Homo sapiens: one gene and its partner. The protein of the gene in region 1 purifies or fractionates together with the protein of each later gene. This does not show direct contact. Each region holds a gene or a part of one and is shown on either strand. Other genes may lie near its edges.

What was found.
Region 2: the proteins of SPATA4 (region 1) and FAT3 purify together in Homo sapiens (affinity purification with mass spectrometry; one large-scale study listed by BioGRID and IntAct). This does not show direct contact.

What each region holds. Positions count from the first base shown.
Region 1 is NC_000004.12:176,185,420-176,189,248, reverse strand, and holds part of SPATA4 (spermatogenesis-associated protein 4), read left to right. Parts: intron 1-1,013; coding exon 1,014-1,130; intron 1,131-3,829. UniProt on the Homo sapiens protein: May play a role in apoptosis regulation.
Region 2 is NC_000011.10:92,798,288-92,802,116, forward strand, and holds part of FAT3 (protocadherin Fat 3 isoform 1 precursor), read left to right. Parts: coding exon 1-3,622; intron 3,623-3,829.

The DNA of each region.
Region 1 (3,829 bases):
CACTGATCCCTCGCTGCCACCCCTTCACCTCCTTTCAGTTCGTTGTCTAGCATTTCAGTTCTGTCCAGTTATATTTTAACACCACAAATCAGGCATCATTGACTTTTCTGTTTAAAAGTCTATCTTTGTAGAAAACTAACCTGTATCTCTGTTGTCTTTTGAACACATTTTTTCTTTAACTACAGATCATCTAAACCCTTCCAATTCTTGAGCAGTGCTCTTTTTCCAGTCTTGATTCCTGAGACTGCTGATTTTAAACATTTCTCATTTGTGGCCAAAGTAATTAATTGTGATAACTATAGTTCTGGCAGTGTTACTGGCCAGAGTTGTGTTTAGTGTTGACAGAGCATGACTGGTGAGTAGGAATTAACTTAGCAACTTCTTCAAGCCTCAGTGAAGGATGAGTTGCAGAGGAGGAAGTGATCTTTAGAAGCACAAGGAAATTGCTCAAGTATTTCAGTTTACAGGATTAGTTAAAAAGAAATATGGGAAACATGGAAATAATTTTAATTCACAAATATGTGCAAAATGAAAGATACTGTATGATTTTATCAAATATAAAAATACATAAAACTAACCTATAATGATAGAAGTCAGGATAGCATTTTCCTTTTAGAATACTGTCTTGGAAAGACATGAGGGGGCTTTGGGGTACTGGTAACACATCATTTCTTGATCTGGATGATGGTACCCTAAGTGTATTCACTCACACATTCATTGGAGTGAATTATACTTACTGTTTGTTTACCTTTTTGTATATACATTATAATTGAATAAAAACTTACCAAAGACTAACAGGAACATAAATATATTACCTTTAAAGTAACTATTTTGTGTATTAAATATATTGTGAGCAATGTGGGGAGGGACTATTAACCTAGGTATTCACACTACTCAGGAATATGATAAACAGAAATTTAAATAATTTACTTAATTTTTAAATTATGGCATCTTATTTTGACAATGGCCATTATGGCTTTTTAAGAAATAACTTTTGTGTTCATATTTTATAGAATGGTTTGATGTGAAACCAACAGTGGGAGAAGTTACTCTCAATCACCTTCCTGCCCAAGCCTCTGGGCGCAGATATAATTTAAAAGTTAAAAGAGGAAGAGTTGTCCCTGTTTTACGTAAGTTTTAACTCTTTGCTTCTTAAAATTGATTTTTTTTTGCTTGACTTTCTTCAATTAAAGTTTTAAAAAACGGTTAAATAGTTAAAATGTTGGTATAGGTCAACATTCAGTCCTACACTGCCAATTACACTGGTATGCAGTTCTTTATGATAAGTGAAGGGAACATGTGGTCTGCTAAGTCGCTGCCCCCTCCCCAGCCTGCTACAATCAGATCCACTGAGTTCTGATTTATGCTTAAATAGGTGAGTTGGAAACACGTCAGGCTCATTAGAGTTCAAAGCTCAGTTCTTCAGTAGTCAGAGGATGAGTCAGTCAGTCCTGAGACAGATATAGATACTTGCATACTAAGAATTCTCAATCAGTTGTATTACAAGAAGTCACTTGATTAAACCCTGTTAATTCAGAAAGCATTTATACTACAGGAAACTGTAGCCCATGGTCCAAATTCAGCCTGTTGCCTGTTTTTGTATAGTTCACAAGTTAAAAATAGTTTTTACTTTTTTTCTTTTTTGGAGACGGAGTCTCACTCTGTCACCCAGGCTGGAGTGCAGTGGTGTGATCTCGGCTCACTGCAACTTCCACCTCCTGGGTTCAAGCGATTCTCCTGACTCAGCCTCCTGAGTAGCTGGGACTACAACGCACGGTGCCACGCCTGGCTAATTTTTTGTATTTTAGTAGAGATGGGGTTTCACCGTGTTGCCCAGGCTGGTCCTGAACTCCTGAGCTCAGGCAGTCCACCCTCCTCGGCCTCCCAAACTGCTAGGATTTCATGGTTAAAAAAAAAATCAAAAGAAAAATAGTAATTCCTGACACATAAAAATGCTATGAAATTCAAGTTCCCGTGCTCATAAATAACAGGGAACAGAGCCACTCCTGCTCATTTTATGCCTTGCTTACGGCTGCTTTGACCCTTCAACAGTTGGGTTGAGTAGTTGCCAAGGTGACTGTCTAGTCTAGAAAGTTGAGTTGCCAGATTTAGCAAATAAAAACACAGGGCAATGCAACAAATACCTCTGAGGACATATTTAGGACACACTTTTACTAAAAATTATTCATTATTTATCTGAAATTCAAATTTAACTAGGTGTCCTATATTTTATCTGGCAACCCTACCACAAAGCCTAAAATATGTACTCTCCAGCCCTTTACAGAAAATGTGTGTGGACTTCTGCTACAGATTATGTTTCCTGACGTGTTGAGGGATTTCGCCGGGGATAAAAGTTATTTGTTTACATAGAGTCTTTGAGAGCAGTGCCAATGTTCCTTTTTTTAAAAAAACAAAAAAAAACCATGATTTCTCAGAACCTTTAATATGCTAATATGCATTGTAAATATTAAAGGGGAGAGAAGCAGAATGAAGTGTTTTCCAAACTCTATTTGATCACACATCACTATTTGGTTTTGCTTTGTTTGGTGGCCTTGTAGAACTAGTGTTCCTCATAGCACACTTTTTAATGTCCAAACATCAGGCCAGCCCATCAAAATCCCTTTAACTCTTCAACCACCTGAGGCATAGTAAACATAATAGAATCCAACGGAAGTGGATAACAATGTTTCCATGAATAAAATGCATCCATAGTTTCACCTTTAGATTCTAGGAATATATCCTCTCCTTCAGCCTGCCTCAACCTTCTTCTGTTGGTGACATTTGTGGTGAAAGTTCCAGCAGGGAGGGAGGTGAAGCCACAGTGGTAGGGTGAGCATAGGAGGAGGGGATCAGGAGGTATGGAAAGGAAACTGCAGGTAAGTTTTGTTTTTGTGTTTAACTTGCTTGCCTCGTTCCCCTTATGATTAACTGAATTTCACTGGGAAAGGGAAAGAGCAGGGTCACCTGCTTTGGACATGCAGTGAAAAGGTAGAAAAGAGTAGTAATGAGTCACAGCACGGCTTCCTTCCAGTATAAGAAAGAGATGCAAATAGGCCAGAGACAAAAACTGATGCCTGCTGATATTTGAATTGCTAAAGAGTATTTCTCATTTTTGTTATCTTTTTTGAAAATCTTCAAGGTTCACATATGAGTTTTTAGAAAAACTACATGCTATCATTACTTCAGATCAGGATTCCAAGTAAAATGAATTTTTGCTTTTACAATTTTAATAATGTATAAGTGGCCATAAATAACTCCTCCCATTTTATTCTCTACTGCTCTTTTTTATGATTCTCTGGTTGCTCTTTTATGATTCACTTTCATCTCAATAGTCTTGCTCTCTTTGGAAAAAGAGATGGGTTTATGGAAGCCTTCATTGGACAAGGTAGATCAGGATGGGAAGGTGAACATACATTTATTTTTTTTACTTGTCTCAATCCTGTTCCAGATAATATACTTGGATTCTCTTAATCTAGGCACATAGTAAATTAATGAATGATGTGGATTCAGCTTTGGTAATTATATGGATGAGAACTATTAAGTGTTAAATAATTTTTTCTAAATTTGTTCAAAGGACTTCATTTCAGTTTCTGATAAGAGAGTAGAGTAAATAGTTCAGGTCTGCTACCATAGTTTGATAGTTAATGGAAGGAGGAGAAGCAAAAACACTAGACTGTAGGAACGTAACTCTGTTTTACCATCTAAGATTTCATATAATGGCACTGAAATCACAGGCTGTTCACCTGAAAATCTTCTAATTATCAAACAGGGGGGCCAAAATTAATTGTAAGTTAGGTTGTTACCTTTGCTTTTTTCTTTTTATAACACT
Region 2 (3,829 bases), on another chromosome or scaffold:
ATTGTTGATGAAAATGATAATGCCCCAGTTTTTCTCTTTTCTCAATACTCAGGCAGCCTAAGTGAGGCTGCCCCAATTAATAGCATTGTCAGGAGCTTGGATAACAGCCCACTGGTGATTCGAGCCACAGATGCTGACAGCAACCGGAATGCTCTGCTTGTGTATCAGATTGTGGAGTCAACAGCAAAAAAGTTTTTCACGGTGGACTCCAGTACAGGTGCAATCAGAACAATTGCCAACCTGGACCATGAAACCATTGCCCATTTCCATTTTCATGTGCATGTGAGAGACAGTGGTAGCCCCCAACTGACTGCAGAGAGTCCCGTTGAAGTCAACATTGAGGTGACAGATGTGAATGATAACCCACCTGTTTTTACTCAGGCTGTGTTTGAGACTATCTTACTTCTACCTACCTATGTTGGAGTGGAGGTTCTGAAAGTTAGTGCCACAGATCCTGACTCTGAGGTACCCCCTGAACTGACATACAGCCTAATGGAAGGCAGTTTGGATCATTTTTTAATTGACTCAAACAGTGGAGTACTTACCATAAAAAACAACAACCTCTCCAAGGATCACTACATGCTGATAGTTAAGGTGTCTGATGGAAAGTTCTACAGTACCTCCATGGTCACCATCATGGTTAAAGAAGCCATGGACAGCGGCCTCCACTTTACACAAAGCTTCTATTCCACCTCAATCTCAGAGAACAACACTAACATAACCAAAGTTGCTATTGTCAATGCAGTTGGAAATCGCCTTAATGAGCCCTTAAAATACAGCATCTTAAACCCAGGAAATAAGTTCAAGATAAAATCTACCTCAGGGGTCATTCAGACGACTGGAGTCCCCTTTGACCGTGAAGAACAAGAGTTATATGAGCTGGTGGTAGAAGCCAGCCGTGAGCTGGACCATCTGCGTGTGGCCAGAGTGGTGGTCAGGGTTAACATTGAAGACATAAATGACAATTCTCCAGTCTTTGTGGGCCTCCCATACTATGCTGCTGTTCAAGTGGATGCGGAACCCGGGACTCTGATTTATCAGGTGACAGCCATTGACAAAGATAAAGGTCCAAATGGAGAAGTGACCTATGTCCTGCAGGATGACTATGGCCACTTTGAAATTAACCCTAATTCAGGGAATGTTATTTTAAAGGAAGCATTCAACTCTGACTTGTCCAACATTGAGTATGGAGTCACCATCCTAGCCAAGGATGGCGGAAAACCTTCTTTGTCTACATCTGTGGAGCTTCCCATCACTATTGTCAACAAAGCAATGCCTGTGTTTGATAAGCCCTTTTATACAGCATCTGTCAATGAAGACATCAGAATGAACACACCCATCCTAAGCATCAATGCCACCAGTCCAGAAGGCCAAGGCATCATATATATCATTATCGATGGGGACCCTTTTAAACAGTTTAACATTGACTTTGACACTGGGGTCCTGAAAGTTGTTAGCCCTTTGGATTATGAAGTTACATCTGCTTACAAGCTGACAATAAGAGCCAGCGACGCCCTTACTGGTGCTAGGGCTGAAGTCACTGTTGACTTGCTAGTTAATGATGTAAATGACAACCCCCCTATTTTCGATCAGCCTACATACAATACAACACTATCAGAAGCATCTCTTATTGGGACACCTGTTTTACAAGTTGTCTCTATTGATGCAGACTCAGAAAACAATAAAATGGTACATTATCAGATTGTCCAGGATACCTACAATAGCACAGATTATTTTCACATAGATAGCTCAAGTGGCTTAATCCTGACAGCACGAATGCTGGACCATGAGTTAGTACAACACTGCACTTTGAAAGTCAGATCAATAGATAGTGGCTTCCCATCACTGAGCAGTGAGGTTCTCGTTCATATCTACATCTCTGATGTAAATGACAACCCTCCAGTTTTTAATCAGCTCATTTATGAGTCATATGTGAGTGAATTAGCCCCCCGGGGCCATTTTGTAACCTGTGTACAAGCCTCTGATGCAGACAGCTCTGATTTTGACCGGTTGGAATATAGCATTTTATCTGGGAATGACCGGACGAGCTTTCTGATGGACAGCAAGAGTGGAGTTATCACATTGTCCAACCATCGGAAGCAGCGGATGGAGCCTCTGTACAGTCTCAATGTGTCTGTCTCTGATGGGTTGTTCACCAGCACTGCACAGGTGCATATTAGGGTACTTGGGGCTAACTTGTACAGCCCTGCCTTTTCACAAAGCACATACGTAGCTGAGGTGAGAGAGAACGTGGCTGCAGGAACAAAGGTAATTCATGTTCGAGCCACAGATGGTGATCCAGGGACTTATGGGCAGATCAGCTATGCCATCATCAATGACTTTGCCAAGGATCGATTCCTCATAGACAGCAATGGGCAGGTCATCACCACAGAAAGGCTAGACCGGGAAAACCCTCTAGAAGGGGATGTTAGTATTTTTGTGAGGGCCCTTGATGGTGGAGGGAGAACAACTTTCTGCACTGTGAGAGTGATTGTTGTGGATGAAAATGACAATGCTCCCCAGTTCATGACAGTGGAATATAGAGCCAGTGTCAGGGCAGATGTTGGAAGGGGCCACTTGGTCACTCAAGTTCAAGCCATAGATCCCGATGATGGAGCAAATTCAAGGATTACTTATTCCCTCTATAGCGAGGCCTCTGTTTCAGTGGCCGACCTCCTGGAAATCGATCCTGACAATGGCTGGATGGTCACAAAGGGTAATTTTAACCAGCTGAAAAATACAGTGCTTTCGTTCTTTGTCAAAGCAGTAGATGGGGGCATCCCAGTAAAGCACTCCCTCATTCCTGTCTATATCCACGTCTTGCCCCCTGAAACGTTCTTGCCATCATTCACCCAGTCTCAGTATTCCTTTACCATTGCAGAAGATACAGCCATTGGGAGTACAGTGGACACCCTGAGGATTTTGCCCAGTCAGAATGTCTGGTTCAGCACAGTTAATGGGGAACGGCCAGAAAATAACAAAGGGGGCATATTCGTCATAGAACAGGAAACAGGCACTATTAAGCTTGACAAACGCCTTGACCGTGAAACCAGCCCAGCTTTCCACTTTAAAGTAGCAGCCACTATACCCCTGGACAAAGTAGACATTGTGTTTACTGTGGATGTAGATATCAAGGTATTGGATTTGAATGACAACAAGCCAGTCTTTGAAACTTCAAGCTATGACACCATTATAATGGAAGGGATGCCTGTTGGCACCAAACTCACACAAGTGAGAGCTATTGATATGGACTGGGGAGCCAATGGACAAGTCACTTACTCCCTCCACTCGGATTCCCAGCCCGAAAAGGTAATGGAAGCATTCAATATTGACAGCAACACGGGCTGGATCAGTACCTTGAAGGACCTAGATCACGAGACAGACCCCACATTCACCTTCTCTGTGGTGGCCTCTGACCTTGGAGAGGCATTCTCTCTTTCCTCCACGGCCTTGGTCTCTGTCAGAGTGACAGATATAAATGACAATGCACCAGTCTTCGCGCAGGAAGTGTACCGAGGGAATGTGAAGGAGAGCGACCCACCGGGCGAGGTGGTAGCCGTCCTCAGCACCTGGGACAGAGACACATCCGACGTTAATCGCCAAGTGAGCTACCATATTACAGGTGAGTAAATACCCCCAGTTTTCATTATGTGCACTGCTTTATAAAGAAAGATGGAAGATGGCGGGGAGAAGAGTAAGAGAGAAGGAAGATGGGATAAGGAGTCCAGTGTAATGAAGCCTCTCTGGAGCTGAGTAAAGGATCTCTGAGCAGACTGCGTTTTTTGCTTGTTGGCTGTTGCTAACTCAGCCTTAGTTTGGAGTTCACAGG